Regions from separate parts of the Homo sapiens genome. Here region 1 is linked to region 2. A link means that fine-mapping ties the variant in region 2 to the expression of a gene that starts in the linked region. Tissue or cell type: whole blood. Region 2 holds a variant in brackets; the other region holds the start of a gene. All regions are shown on one strand. Distances are between the middles of the regions.

What was found. PIP is the estimated chance that this variant, and not a neighbour inherited with it, causes the effect.
Region 1: it holds the start of PNLDC1, and the variant in region 2 is fine-mapped to the expression of PNLDC1 in whole blood (TOPMed, PIP above 0.99).

Annotation. Positions count from the first base shown.
Region 1 is chr6:159,796,959-159,805,044 of GRCh38, forward strand. It overlaps PNLDC1 (PARN like ribonuclease domain containing exonuclease 1), which reads left to right and starts at 3,318. Exons shown (of 19, transcript NM_001271862.2): 1 at 3,318-3,425; 2 at 3,814-3,871; 3 at 4,155-4,228; 4 at 6,313-6,352; 5 at 7,007-7,130; 6 at 7,591-7,679. The coding sequence starts at 3,350. MRPL18 (mitochondrial ribosomal protein L18) reads left to right here. Exons shown (of 4, transcript NM_014161.5): 3 at 329-560; 4 at 1,094-1,471. The coding sequence ends at 1,165.
Region 2 is chr6:159,681,673-159,689,777 of GRCh38, forward strand. It overlaps SOD2 (superoxide dismutase 2), which reads right to left. Exons shown (of 5, transcript NM_000636.4): 3 at 6,454-6,570; 4 at 3,182-3,361; 5 at 1-966. The coding sequence ends at 821. Among named protein-coding and RNA genes, the nearest start is that of SOD2, 7.5 kb to the right of the region's middle. RefSeq lists a silencer at 5,645-5,895. The variant C/T (reference allele first, on the strand shown) is at 3,478.

The DNA.
Region 1 (8,086 bases), 120 kb after region 2:
AGTAAGTATATCCATGTCATGCATATGTTCAGTAACTTAGCTCTGTCTCTTCAAATCTCTTTTTGAAGTAGATCTGTAAATAAAACTCAGCTCTTCAGAAACAAATTTCTTCATGATACTTGAACTATTTAGTTTGTTATTATTGAGGATATTCTCATAAAGGCGGAGGAAAAATACTTTTCCCAAGCAAAATCCAAGTTAAATATGTTGAAGTAAATGAACCAAACACTGGATTGTTGAAAAATATTTAGTCATTTATTCACCTCAATTAATGTAACTTTAGGATACAGATTCTTCTGTGATTTTATTATCTTCTCACCCCATTTAGGTTGCGAGTTATAAGGACTCAGCATCATGTAGAAGCACTTGTGGAGCATCAGAATGGCAAGGTTGTGGTTTCGGCCTCCACTCGTGAGTGGGCTATTAAAAAGCACCTTTATAGTACCAGAAATGTGGTGGCTTGTGAGAGTATAGGACGAGTGCTGGCACAGAGATGCTTAGAGGCGGGAATCAACTTCATGGTCTACCAACCAACCCCGTGGGAGGCAGCCTCAGACTCGGTATTTTTGTTTTCATGTACTTATTGAAAAGGTATTGTGTTAATTCTTGGCATTAGATAACTTACATAATAATAACAGTTTTTACTTACCAAATACTTTCCATGTGTCAGACCCTTTGGTGAGTACTCAACAGTGTTACTTCATTTAATCCTCACATCAGTCCATAGGGTAGGGACTAGTACTCTCATTCTATACAGAAATAAACTGAGGCTTACTTGCCCAGAGTCAGTGTATGGTGGATTTCAAACCCAGGGTGACTGATTCTGTAGTCCATGATGTCAGCCACTGTATTTCCTGTTCATATATTGACATCTTGTCCATATAATATTTTGAAATGCTGCTGAACCTTGACATCTCTACATTTCCTTTTTACTTACATCATTATTAAGATCACTTTCTGAAAAACCGTTGTAGGCTGGGAAGTTAGCAAGAACAAATCAATTTATTTCTGTCTTTTGGAAGGTGAAAGTATTTTCAGCCTACTCGTGCTGCTGACTTAATCTTTTCCTTTTTTTTCTGATTTTCAAAACCAGATGAAACGACTACAAAGTGCCATGACAGAAGGTGGTGTGGTTCTACGGGAACCTCAGAGAATCTATGAATAAATGGAAGCATTAATTGTTTTGAACATGTAAATATAAATCTGTCAGCCACTACAGCCATCAAAAGAGAGCATCTGGAAGAACAGCCAGCTTGGAAGTTTTACAGCAATAATGTTGCAGTGGAATATTATTTGTAGTTAAGGTCATCCTCCTCCCCTTTCTGTTTTTTTAAATCAAGAACTACGTTCTGCCCCTCTCTTGGGCTTCAGAAGCATCTAAGAAAAGCAGTCATCAATTATAATTAACTTTCAAAGGGCAAGTCAGAAGTTGTTTATAAATTACAAAATAAAGGCATATTATGAACTCTTATTTTCTGGTTATATGACATTGTCTGAGCTCACTGTGGCAGTGGAGCACATATGAGGTTGATGTAAAGCACTTATTACTGTGTCTAGTTCATGGCGAGTGATCTCAGTGAATGACAGTTGTTTGCTGCTCGGAGTGTGGGTTGTTTTTTAAAATAGGAAATGTCAGTATCAATCTAATACTATAGAACAGTCAGTATGTGAAAATGAAAGGACCAAATGCCAACCTCACTTGGACTCTTGGTTCCCAACAGTAAGAGAAACAAATTTGAAAGAGGAAGGAGGTGGCATCAGGAGCTGAAAGCAGAGGTGGAAATGGTTGGGGTTAGTGGGCGCTCAATTTGCCATGAAGTGAACATTTTATTAGATAGGAGATGAAACTTGAAATGCATGCAAGTTAATCTAAAATTTGAGCTTGGGTAGATGGGAATCATGGCAGTTCTCTGAAAGGAGCTGATTAAGGTGTTAATTTTTGGCTATTTGATAAATGTGAGAAAAAACCTGTAGGCAGTTAAGGTGGCTTCTAGAGCATTGTTTTCCAGTTTTTTTAATGTATACCCCAATTAAATGTTTGTTTAGAAGTGAAATATGTTACTTCTGCCAATTTGAGTATTCAATGTGTTATTTTAAATGGAACACATCTGTATGAAGTATGATTTGTTCTGAGAGGTCTTCAGAATCAAATGGCTTAATAGTCCCCTTTTGCTTAATTAATGTCCCGGAGAGGCATTTAAAAGTATAATTGAAGATCGGATGCAGTGCCTCACACCTCTAATCCCACCACTTTAGGAGGCTGAAGCAGGTGGATCACTTGAGGCCAGGAATTCGAGACCAGCCTGGCCAATACGGTTTAACCCTATCTCTACTAAAAACAAAAATGAGTTGGGCGTGGTGGTGCATGCCTGTAATCCCAGCTGTTCAGAGGCTGAGGCGGGAGAATCGCTTGAACTCAGGAGGTGGAGATTGCAGAGAGCCGAGATGGCACCACTGCACTCCAGCCTGGGTGACAGAGTGAGACTGTCTCAAAAGGAAAAAATAAAGTATAACGGTAATGTTTTCTCCGCTAACCTTAAAGATTGATTTGAGCACCTCACTTTGAGGACCATAGTTCCAAAACGCTGTTCAAGTAGAAGCCTAGAATTCAAGGGAGGACACTGTAAGGAAGACCATGGACTAGTTGCACTGGAAACAGTAACAAAAGTAAAAATTAAGCTCACATGTATGTGATGATGTAGGTAGGGATTTCCGCAAGGAGTGAGTGCACGAGATAATCCCTGGGGACCAAGGATTCCTTCAATTTAATGGGCAGTTCTTGAGGCTTTGCAAAGTTTGATTGCAGGTGTGAAGACAGTGGTAAGGTGGACAGCAGAATGAGGAAAAAGATGTCCAGGGGCGTGGGAGAGGGAATGGGGACAGACATACTGGCAGTGATGGAGAAGTTGGGAAGAGGTGATTTAGAAGACCGTGAGCCGCAGCAAAGGATCTGCTTATTGCAGTTGCGTCCGGTGTTGTTCCTGCTCCGCTTTTCTGATTTCACCCTTTCTGGACTCTGTCTTCGTCTCCTGCCACGCCTCTTAACATTCTAAGTCCATGTAAATGACATTCTCACGTTAAGGGCTGCAAAGAAATTGCTGAGGAGCCAGGTAAACAGGCTTTGATTGCAATTGCAATCAAACCTCTGTAGCAAATCGTACAATTAAAACACCCGCAGGCAGGTGTGGGCGACGCCAGCAGCACACGGGGAAGCTGGGCACGTGGGGCGGAGGCAGCTGCCTGGTTTCCATGTGTGCGCCCTTTAAGACCCGGCGGCGCGACGGAAGCGCGTGGGCAGCACGTGGGCAGCACGTGATAGCGCTGGGCGACTCCGCGGAGCTGCACGGCCATGGACGTGGGCGCCGACGAGTTCGAGGAGAGCCTCCCTCTGCTGCAGGAGCTCGTCCAGGAGGCCGACTTCGTGGGTGAAGAGCCTGGGATTCGCGGCTGTGCCGGACAGAGCCCCTTGCCCCGGGCGAGCTTGAGGAGGGGGTGGCGGGACGGTTGCCAGGCCACAGGGCCTCAGAGAGGGCCTCGGGAAGGACAGGGGGGCTTCCTTCTCCAGCCCCGGGGCGGTGGGACTTTGAGCAGCAAGTACACTCCGAGCCCCACGTCCCTTGTTGGCCAGAGCCCCGTGCGCCCAGGTGCCTGGCTGCTCCTTGCCTTGGTTCCTCCATTTTCCCTTCCTGACCTCACTTGGCTTCTTGAGCGCAGAGGTGAGCGCGGGTGCCTTGGCCGCCTGCAGATCTACAGTGTGAGGAGTGCTGGCGATGTTCTGCACCCGAGGACTGCTATTTTTTGCCTTCCTGGCAGGTCTGGACATAGAGTTCACGGGCCTTCGTTCTAACCTGTCTGGGCCCCAGCAGATCAGGTAAAACTAAAGCTGTGTCCCCTCTGTATAAGAGCCTGGCCAGACCAGCACTGTTTCTGGCCAGCAGCCTGTTGGCATTTGGGGGGCAGGACGTTTTGTGTGGCTTGCTCCTACGTGTTGGAGGACCTTGCTTTTTTCTGTCCACTAAATGATGGTAGTGCTCCCTAGTTGTTGTAACAAGGAAAAAATCCTCCCCGGTTGCGAGTGGTGGTCCTGCCGCGGAGGCCATAGTGCCGGGATGGGATGTCATTGCTCGTGGAATGAGATGCCTGTTTGTTCACAGTCTTTTTGATTTGCCATCGGAGTGGTATCTAAAGACCCGTCAGAGTGTTCAGCAATTTACAGTCTGTCAGATTGGTGAGTTTAATATCAGCTGTTAGAGTTTTTCAAGAAGGTATTTTTATTGTCCTTGGATTTCCTACTGTAAAAACAGCTCTGAGATTTTTCAAGGATATTGAGTATCGTTTTGTATGCTTGTTTTGTGTTGGGCCATTGTATACATATGGAAATCAACACTTCGGAGCAAACCAAATTTAGCAGCATTGTTTCCGTGCTTAAATAAGTCAGTATTAAGGAACACTCACTGTTACTCTTTCAAGTAAAACTGTGTGTGTGCGATTTTTATTTTATTTTTTGAGACAGGGTCTTGCTCTGTCACCAAGACTGGAGTGCAGTAGCATAGTCTTAGCTCACTGCAGCCTAGACTTCCTGGGCTCAAGTGATACTAGCACGTCAGCCTCCTGAGTAAACTGGGACTACAGGCTCACCACCACACCTAGCTAATTTTTAAATTTTTTGTTCAGATGGGTTTTCGTCATGTTGGCCAGGCTGTTCTTGACTTCCTGGGCTCGAGCAATCTTTCTGCCTCTGCCTCTCAAAGTGATGGAATTATAAGCGTGAGCAACCACACCTGGCCTGTGATTTTTTTTTCTTAAGAAAATTTACACACAAAAATAATTTTTTTTAAGGTCATCTCAGTTTCAGAAACTTTTTTTTTTTCCTTGATGGGATTTGGAGATCTTTCTGTATCGGTTCATACAGATCTATTTGTTGATTTAGTTATTAGTTTATTTTCTGAGATGGAGTCTCGCTCTGTTGCCCAGGCTGGAGTGCAGTAGCGCGATGTGGGCTCACCGCAACCTCCACCACCCAGGTTCGGGTGATTCTCCTGCCTCAGCCTCCAGAGCAGCTGGGATTACAGGCAATTGCCACCAGGCCTGGCTAATTTTTGTATTTTTAGTAGCGATGGGGTTTCACCATGTTGGCCAGGCTGGTCAAGACAGAGCTGTTAACGGTTGCGTAATGCTGTTTCTTTTACAGCTACTCAATCCTGCTTTTGTAATGTGAAATTAGCTGTAGAGAATACATGAACAAATGAGCATGGCTCCATTCCAGTAAAATGTTATTGTATTTACAGAAACAGACCCTGGGCCAGATTTTACTTTTCTGGGTTTGTCTGTGCCCTCTCCCGCACCATTGGGTTTTTGCTGTGTTGCCCAGGCTGGGCTCAAACTTTTGGGCTCTGGAGATCCTCCAGTCTCAGCTTCTGAAGTAGCTGGGAGTGCTGCCACGCCCAGCCCCTGCTTTTACTATGAATGATGCTGAACGTGTGTGTGTTTTCCTCTCTATCCTGATCCTTTGCTACTTTTCTGTTATGGTTTTTTTTTTGTTCGTTTGTTTGTTTTTAATTATAAGACCTCTTTGAGAAGTATAGGAAACAGTTGTAGTTATGTTTCCATTGTTGTACCCAAATTTGTTTGGGGGGAAGGGGGACAGAGTCTTGCTCTGTTGCCCAGGCTGGAGTGCAGGGGCACGATCTTGGCTCCCTGCAACACCCTTGCCTCCCAGGCCCAAGCAATTCTCCTGCCTCAGCCTCCTGAGTAGCTGGGATTACAGGTGCGCGCCACCACACCTAGCTAATTTTTGTATTTTTAGTAGAGACAGGGTTTCACCATGTTGGTCAGGCTGGTCTCGAATTCCTGACCTCAAGTGATCCACCTGCCTAGGTCTCCCAAAGTGTTGGGATTACAGGCATAAGCCACCGCACCTGGCCTGAAGTCTTTTTTTTTTTTAACTTTGCATATGGTTTTCTTTGAGGGGGGAGGAATAGACATTTTAAATGAGTTAAATATATAAATCTTAATGGTTTTTGGTATTTTCTGTGGATAGTTTTAAAACTATGAGAATGTCATTTTAATATTTACTTCTGTATTTGAAGAACAGGCCACAATTAGATTTTAGCAAATTCAGTGTGAATTACAATTTGACATTTCTCATGCTTCCAGTCTGTCTTTTCTTTTTTGTCATTAAAGATGTTATCCTGTTGTACAGCCCACATAGTATCTGTGGGCGCAAAGTACTGTTTGAGTTGTTTTTGTCTTTGTAGTGAAATTCAGGTTGCTTTTCCTTGGCATTCATTCCCTCTACGGTCATTCTTCCAGGATTGTCTGTGTTTTCCGCTATTGAAGGAGAGGCAAACAAGTATGTATCAAGAGCTTCTGCAAACATAGGTGCTTCCCACCTATGTTCCACAGCTGCCACCTTCAAATTCTGCCTCAGGTGCCCCGATCACTTTTGCCCTGGATCTTCCGTATTCTCTCCTGTGTCTGTTCCTCCACTCACTCTGCCCTCTGCGGATTCCAGCTTGTCTTTGATGTCTCTCTGGAAGCAGTACCTTTCCCGCCAGCCTTGCTCTGTACCTTAAGTGCTCCTTTCCCCATTTCCATTGTCTCCAGTGTGCACCTATATTAATAAAAGCGCCTGACACAGTGTGGTGTAATGAAAGTGATGTTTAAACTACCTGACACAGTAGGCAGAAAGGATGCCCCAACTATCAGGATGCCTCCCCACCCCCCATGAGCAGTTGAGGGTGCCAGCCTGCACGCCCTAACCTGGCATCCCTGGGCAGCTTGTGGAGGGGCTGTCTCTGTGGTATACGCTGGCCCTGAAGGCAGGCTCTCTGCCTTTTTCATTTAGCACCCCCAGTGCCAATCATAGCTCCTGAAACACAGCAGACACTCGGGCACACTCAGATTCTTCTTGCCTAAAAGAAAGAGCCCACCCTGAAGCCAGCCCTGGGAGCCAGAGTTTTTTAAATGGTTGTGGCTTTTTCTCTGTATGTTTGTTTTATTATAGGTATATAGCCCATTCTTGTAACTTCTATCTCTTCCCTACAACGTTTGGGATTTTGGACTCAGAATTCTCCTTCCAGGCTTCCAGTGTTCAGTTTTTGAATCAGTATGGCTTCAACTATAACAAGGTATGGCATTGGAGGAGGGGAACGGGAATGTCTTTTGTTTGTTTCTGAGATGGAGTCTCGCTCTGTTGCCCAGGCTGGAGTGCAGTGGTGCAATCTTCGCCTCCCGGGTTCAAGTGATTTTCCTGCTTCAGCCTCCCAAGTAGCTGGGATTACAGGCACCCGCCACCATGCCCAGCTAATTCTTTTTGTATTTTTAGTAGAGACGGGGTTTCACCATGTTGGTCAGGCTGGTCTTGAACTCCTAGCCTCAGGCAATCCACCTGCCTCGGCCTCCCAAAGTGCTGGGGTTATAGGCATGAGCCACCGCACCCGGCCTGGGAATGTCTTACAAGTGATCTAGACGAACTGGCTTATACAGCCCGTCTCCTTTCCCCTTTCTACCTGTCCTCGTGAAATCAGGCACAGAGGATCCCTCTGACTTGTCTCCTTGTTCTGTTTGTTGTTCTGTTTCTGTCTTAAGTTTCTCAAAAACGGAATCCCATATATGAATGAAGAACAGGAGAAGAAAATTAGACACGATATCCTGACTGGGAACTGGAGAGTTCGCAGGTATGGCCTGTTTCTCCAGGTGCCTTTTTGTTTCCTTGTTGCTGTTGTCTGCATTTCCCGTGGGCGGGCGTGCCGTTTCCAGGAGTGTGGTGACCTCCATCCATGCTTGGCGGGGATGGCTTCAGCTGCCTGTGCAGCTGGCGCTGCTCTCCCTGTGCCCCAACTGAGAATGGCTTTCACCTGTCTCCATCATGTTCCACTCCCTAATGAACCTCTCACTGCGTTGAGTGTGAGTTTCAGTGTTTAAAAAGAAAAAGAAACTGACTCCTAATTTGGAACTCAAAGAAACAAGAATTCCATTCCAGTGCTAGAGGGGAAGAAATCGTTCTGTTGGACTTGCTGTGAGATGTTATGTTGATCCCCCATGTGATCTTCTGAGGGATTTTTCAAGGATATCTCTCGGGCAA
Region 2 (8,105 bases):
CATACCACCCTGAAGGCACCCGATCTCGACTGATTTACAATTTTGCCTTTAACTTCTGCTTTCCTGAAATTTACCACTGCCTTTAAATACTCTAGCTTGTAGGTCATCATGGAGATTGGGTCTCAAGCATGAGCTGCCCAATTCTCCTTGCTTGGCGCCCTGCAAATAAACATCCTCCTTTCTCCTACTGCAAAAACCACCTTTTTGCAGTTTTGCTGTTGAAGTTTGCCTTTACTGTGCAGGTGAGCAAACCCCAGTTCAGTTCACCTGCTACATTTAAACAGTATACAGCTCTATTTGCAAAAACTATACAGGAACATTTGACCTAACAAAAACCACTGGGTGACATCTACCAGAAGTATCACTGCAGAGGATTACTCGACAAAAAGTGCAATTTTCTATAGAAAGCCGAGTGTTTCCCTTGGGAAAGTGTTAATATTTTATTTTTAAGTAACTGGGGCAAAAGACTAGATTTTCTATAACTGCAATAGAATAGGACTAGAAAGGCATCCCTACAAGTCCCCAAAGTATATGGATGGAATATTTTTGATGGTTTTATAAATGACAATTGTAATTTAGCTCTCTGAAGAAAATGTCCAATCAGATTCAATCACACAAAGCATTTACTATTTTCAATCACTTGCCCAATAACAAAATGTTTAGTAAGAAATTATTCAGAACATTAAGTTGTTTATGAAATAAGTGACTAAGCAACATCAAGAAATGCTACAATAGAGCAGCTTACTGTATTCTGCAGTACTCTATACCACTACAAAAACAGTCATAAAGAGCTTAACATACTCAGCATAACGATCGTGGTTTACTTTTTGCAAGCCATGTATCTTTCAGTTACATTCTCCCAGTTGATTACATTCCAAATAGCTTTTAGATAATCAGGCCTGACATTTTTATACTGAAGGTAGTAAGCGTGCTCCCACACATCAATCCCCAGCAGTGGAATAAGGCCTGTTAGAAAGAAGGGGAAAACAAACCAACCATCAGTTTCAGTCTAAAACATTGCATCTTCTCAATTTCAACTTTTATTATTCTACTCACACAAAATTACCCTTTGTAACAATCTCATTCACTTGTTTTTTTATATAAGTAGGAAATCTAGATAAGAATGAATATTCCTATAAAATATTTTTAATTCACTGTTTACAAAGAAAATGTGACAAATACTAACAATAAAATAGACTTGGGAAAATTAACAACAGTACTTTAATAGCTATTCTTAAAAATACCAACAAATTAATTCAAGAGCCAATTCCCAGCCTTCCTCATGGTGGTCTTAGGAGCAGCAGGAAGGGTGGGTTACATCTGTGGGAGCAGGCAAAAGCCCACTGAGAACCTCCTCCAAAGGGTCTGGGCACTCACAGGGGTTTACGAGGAACCAGCTCTGCTCCCCAAGGCTAATTTTAATCTTTGGGAATACAGAGCAGTTGGAGGACACAGTGTTTTCAGAAATTAAGTGAGGTAAATGAAGAATTTAGTTCTATCTGTAAAACATCCATTTAAAAAAACTTTTGGTCTGGGCGCAGTGGCTCAGGCCTGTAATCCCAGCACTTTGGGAGGCCGAGGCAGGCAGATCTCTTGAGGTCAGGCGTTCGAGACCAGCCTGGCCAACATGGTGAAACCCCGCCTCTACTAAAAATACAAAAAATTAGCCTGGCGAGGTGGCAGGCGCCTGTAATCCCAGCTACTCAGGAAGCTGACGCAGGAGAATTGCTTGAACCTGGGAGGCGGAAGTTGTAGTGAGCCAAGATTGCGCCACTGCACTCCAGCCTGGGCAACAGAGTGAGACTCCATCACGCACACACAAAAACACTCAAAATAAATTATAGCTCTCTCTACAAAAACAATTCTTAACCAGTATGTCTTGATCAGTTGTGAGGGAGGTCACTAGTAATTTATTATTAATAATTTCAAGTAGCAAAATTTATTAATGATTTTTATAAACAAAAGGCCATGACATTCCCTCATTTTCCTTCTAATGTGCTTTCCACAGGGAGAGGAAGGAGTGTAGCTGGGACTCACTTACAAATATCAGCCTTTCTGGTCATGCAGCTCTACAAATAACCTGACTCTACAGATCGGTGCTTACAAATTTTTTGTGGCTTTTACAAATTGTTATGCCATGTCACTGTCCCAAAAGAGCTGTTCAGATTCTGCCAAAATCTGGGTCTATCCTGTGAAGTGAGCCACAGATCAAGAGTATTCCAATGTCAGGGGTAGAAGAAGGGGCAGAGAATGACTGTTGTTGATGTGAAGGTATCACTTTAAGTTCAAAGTCCCAACCCTCTGCCAGACAACTCATGGCTCTATTTCCCATACTCTTCAGTGACATTTTTTAAATCCAATTAGGCTCAACAGCAAAGTATTTGGTGAGCCCAGCCTGGCACTTCCAAGCCGAATATTTTCATATACTCTACCAAAGAGCCCCAGAAAGGCAGAAGGTCTGGAAACCTGAGATCTAGTCCCAGTTTAACCTCAAATGCTCAGCAGAGGAGGTAACAGTACAAGCTCTGAAATCAGTCTCTGCTTGTATTTCTTTTCCTCACTCTTGTTCTATAGCTAATTTTTTTTTTATTTTAGTACATATAATTATCTAAGCTGATATTAATTCTCTGTAGAATGAAGCAGGGTTAATAAGTAAAACATTTGGCTGGGCATGGTGGCTCATGCCTGTAATCCCAGCACTTCAGGAGGCCGAGGCAGGCAGATACCTGAGGTCAGGAGTTCAAGACCAGCCTGGCCAACATGGTGAAACCCTGTCTGTACTAAAAACACAAAAATTAGCTGGGCATGGTGGTATGTGCCTGTAATCCCAGCTATTTGGGAGGCTGAGGCAGGAGAATCACTTGAACCCAGGAGGCGGAGGTTGCAGTGAACCGAGATCGCACCACTGCACTCCAGCCTGGGCAACAGTGAGATCTGTCTCAAAAAAAATAAATAAAAATAAAACATGTTTGTTAATGTACCTATAAAATTACGTGTACTTAATTTTATGAAATATCAGGACTTCTAAAACATTTTTACTTACACAAGACTCTGGGTGTTATCTGTTAAGATTTGCAAATTATTACATGTTCTTAAAACACTGTTAGTTTTCCTTATTTCTAGTTGAATGCTTTACAGTAGAGCATCTCTCCCAAATGAAATCACAATTTTTAAATCTAACCTGTTGTTCCTTGCAGTGGATCCTGATTTGGACAAGCAGCAATTTGTAAGTGTCCCCGTTCCTTATTGAAACCAAGCCAACCCCAACCTGAGCCTTGGACACCAACAGATGCAGCCGTCAGCTTCTCCTTAAACTTGTCAAAGGAACCAAAGTCACGTTTGATGGCTTCCAGCAACTCCCCTATTAAAAAAAAAATCCAAAACCACCCACAAATGAACAGATTTCAATAATTACAGTAAAATGTTATATTACATGTATTAAAATATTTTTGTCATAGGGCCCAAGAAATTAGACAA[C/T]ATCAGAATGCGACACCTGGATCTAAGTTTCACAATTTTAATTCACGTTTTTGTTTTTTATAACTTCAACTTTTTTTTTTTTTTTTTTTTTTTTTCATTTTTTACCTTTTGAGACGGAGTTTCACTCTTGTTGCCCAGGCTGGAGTGCAATGCCATGATCTCGGGTCACTGCAACCTCTGCCTCCCAGGTTCAAGCAATTCTCCTGCCTTAGCCTCCCGAGCAGCTGCGATTACAGGCACGTGCCATCACGCCCGGCTAATTTTGTGTTTTTAGTAGAGACAGGGTTTCTCCATGTTGGTCAGGCTGGTCTCAAACTCCCAACCTCAGGTGATCCACCCGCCTTGGCCTCCCAAAGTGCTGGGAATACAGGCGTGAGCCACCGTGCCCGGTTCAAATTTTATTTTAAATTCAGAGGGTACACGCACAGGTTTGTTACACGGGTATCATATGATGCTGAGGTCTGGGGTGCAATTGATGCCATCACCCAGGTAGCGAGCTTAGTATACAACAGTTTTCACCCCCCGTCCCCTTCTTTCTCCCTCCCTGCTCTGTCCTCAGTGTCTGTTGCTGCCATTTTTATATCCATAAGTACTCCATGTTTAGCTTCCACTTGCAAGTGAGACATGTGGTATTTGGTTTTCTGTTCCTGGGTTAATTCGCTTAGGATAATGGCCTCCAGCTGCGTAGTTCACATTTTTTAATGAATCGTGTTAGAGGGATTTCCCCACTCACTGTACTATCTTTGTTAGGAAAGAAATACTACTTTCTGTTAGCTTTTTCTTTTCCCTGAATAGAAAATTTTCCTTTGACTTCTACCCTCCTTCTTCTACGCCTCCATTTGGGAATAAAGTCATTGTTCTTCTCCAAGGCAGCCCAGCTCTTCCTGTCTTGATGGGCAGTTTTCTCTACGACTGAACTAAGGGTATACTTTAAGAGCTGTAATCCTTTTATTCTGTAGTAATACAGAATATAATTCTAGATTAGTCACATCAACTAAATCAACTGGGTCAAAATCTCACTTCTCTTATTCTACGGGTTTAAAAGTAATCATCTTTATAAGCACAAATGATGGAATGTGGTACAGATTAAACAAAAATGGCAGCATACCAAAACCACTGGTTGCATATGAATATATCTGATATTCTGGTAACTGACAAAACTTCAAAAGTATTAACCGATAGTCTAGAAGACTGAACTCAGAAAAAAAATAAGTTGGCCAGGCACGGTGGCTCACACCTGTAATCTTAGTACTTTGGGAGGCCGAGACAGGTGGATCACCTGAGGTCAGGAGTTCAAAACCAGCCTGACCAACATGGAGAAACTCCTCTCTACTAAAAATACAAAAAAATTAGCCGGGCATGGTGGCAGGCACCTATAATCCCAGCTACTCGGGAGGCTGAGGCAGAGAATCACTTGAACCCGGGATGGGCAGAGGCTGCAGTGAGCCAAGATCAAGCCACTTCACTGTAGCCTGGGCGAAAGAGCTAAACTCCATCTCCAAAATAATAATAAATAAAAACAAAAATAAAGAAAAAGTTGCCCAGTTTCCCAAGCTTACTCTCCTCATTCATCATTACCTTAAAATGAAATTGCTTATTTCAAGTGCATAAGATAGGCTGCCTTCCATAACACTGATTAAAAATGAACAATAAAACCACAGAAACTTAGGGTGCATATCCGGAGCCCAGAAACAAGAGACAAGAACTACATTTACGCCTCATGCCCTCCCTGGGTGAAGAAGATAATTAAAGTCATCTGGGCCTCCACAAGCTACACAGGAAGTCAAGGAAACAGTGATAGCGAACAAGACCATCTAGCCCTGTACTCTCCTCATTCCCTGAACACTTTTTAAAAATACCCAGAAAACCTAATTTCCTGGAACAACTGACTTTTTATCAGTTAGGAAAGAGTGAAAAATAGCAAATGACACTATAATTTAATTCTCAAAACAACACCATTGTTATCCCTGTATCACATAGATGAAAAAAGGTACAGACGGTTAACTATCTAATCCAGGCCCTAGAAACTAGTAGACAGAAAGTTCATCTTTTCTAGACTGGCGCGGTGGCTCACATCCATACCACAGCACTTTGGGAGGCCAAGGTGGGTGGATCACTTGAGGCCAGGAGTTCGAGACCAGCCCCGCCAACATGGTGAAACCCTGTCTCTACCAAAAATATAAAAATTAGCCGGGAGTGATGCCACATGCCTGTAATCCCAGCTACTTGGGTGGCTGAGACACAAGAATTGCATGAACCTGAAAGGCGGAGGTTGCAATGAGCCGACATTGCACCACTGCGCTCCAGCCTGGGCGACTGTAAGACTCCGTCTCAAAAAAAAAAAGTTCATAAAATGAAGTCTCTCAGTCTTTCCCTAATATGAAGTACCATCCAGAAACCAGAAGGTGGAGTTGATGTGATATTCTATGTTGGCGTGAACATAAAATCTTATGACATAACCCCATGAAAGCATTCTCCATTCCTACTTGTGTCCTTTTGAAAGTTACAACTTTTATCATACTCGTTGTTATGAAAAATATGCCACTATGATACCTCTGGTAAGAATAAGGTAACTTAGGCCAGGCACGGTGGCTCATGCCTGTAATCCCAGCACTTTGGGAGGCCAAGGTGGGCAGATCATGAGGTCAGGAGTTCAAGACCAGCCTGGCCAACATGGTGAATGAAACCTCATCTCTACTAAAAATGCAAAAATTAGCCAGGCGTGGTGGCGGGCGCCTGTAATCCCAGCTACTTGGGAGGCTGAGGCAGGAGAATCACTTGAACCCAGGAAGCGGAGGTTGCAGTGAGCCAAGACTGCGCCACTGTACTCCAGCCTGGGCAACAAGAGCAAAACTCTTGTCTCAAAAAAACAACAACAAAAAAAACAAAAAACAAGTATAAGGTAACTTCAGTAAATCAACAATCGATTCCTACTGTGCACAAAATGTAGATAAGGGTGCACCAATATATACCAACCTTTGGGTTCTCCACCACCGTTAGGGCTGAGGTTTGTCCAGAAAATGCTATGATTGATATGACCACCACCATTGAACTTCAGTGCAGGCTGAAGAGCTATCTGGGCTGTAACATCTCCTGAAAAGTTAAAATGCAAACACATTTTTTTGTAACTCCTACTTTTTCAACCACTGTATACATTATATTTTTTTCTTTGTAAGCTATTAGATAATGGGACCAGCTTATCTATAACATCCGTTTGTCCTAAAATTCAGCACCCCCCCGCCCCAAAATTATTTGTCCCAGACATGCTGAACAACTGATGAAGGACCTAGCAGAGGTGGAAAAGCTAGAAAATTCACTCCTGGCTGCTAGGCTCAGGGATCTCTTAGATAGAAGAGATTTTAGGAAATGAAACACCAAAGAGGACAATCAAAATAATAGAATGCTAAAATGTATGGCTCAACATACAGACTGTACAGAAAACCTTCAACTCTCACTTTCAAGACAGACGACGATTCATTGGGAAATATCTCCAAGTCACATTAACAAGAAACTCAACATACTCAAAATTGAACTCCTGATGTTCTACCCCAAACTTACTCCTCCTATTGTCCTCCACGTCTCAGTAAATGCCAGCTCTGTCCCTCAGGACATCCTTGGGAACCTGATGTCATTTTTGACTCCTCTCCCTTCACCCCACATCCAATCCACCAGCATATCCATTAGCAAAGCCAGCTCTACCTTTAAAATACATCCAATCTATATAAAAGCACACAGAGAAAAATAAAAGAAAAAAATAAAACACAAGCAGAACCTAATCCCTTCTCCCTAACTCTACTGCCACCTCATTGGGACAGAGGACCAGTATTTCTCACTGCACTGGTGCCACTATCCCCTCAGTTTTGGGGGGTGGGGGTGGGCCTTGCCCCCTCCAAAGGCTCCCCTTCTCACTGGAGCGAACCCTAGGTGTTTACACTCAGCTACTCTTACTACCAAGAGGCGCTGCACTTGACCCCGTCATTGAGCACGTGCTCACGCAGCTGCAGCCTCACTGGCCTTTTTGCACTCACATGACCAACTTGGATGTTCCCCTCAAGGCTAGCTGAGCACTGCTGCCTCTGCTGAACACTCTTCCCCAAGACAGTCTCATGCTGCGTTCCTGTTCCTCCTTCAAGTCTCCACTGAAACATCAACCCCATCAGTGAAGCCTTCTCTAGCCACCATACATGAATTAGCAACTCCCTGCCACCCCTCCCAGACCCTTTACTCCTTCTCAATAGGCCCTGTAACTCCTGGCATACTGCATGGGTACCTTGCCAAATAAGTAGGCAAAATAAAATAGTCTTTTCTATGCCTTCAAGAAGCTACAGACTAAATGAACTATTAATATTAGAAAAAAATGGAAATCCTCTTGTTTAATAAATATTTTGTGCATATTATCCACAAGATACCAAGAGAAGCAAAGTAAAGGACACAGAGACCCACTGAGAGCTTTGCTCTCAAGGAGCTTACATTTTGGAAAAAGTTCTCAACTGCTGTTCTGAAAGTGTACGTTAAGAACATATGTCTGGGCCGGGTGCGGTGGCTCACGCCTGTAATCTCAGCACTTTGGGAAGCCGAGGCGGGCAGCTCTCTTCAGGTCAGGATTTCAAGACCGGCCTGGCCAACAT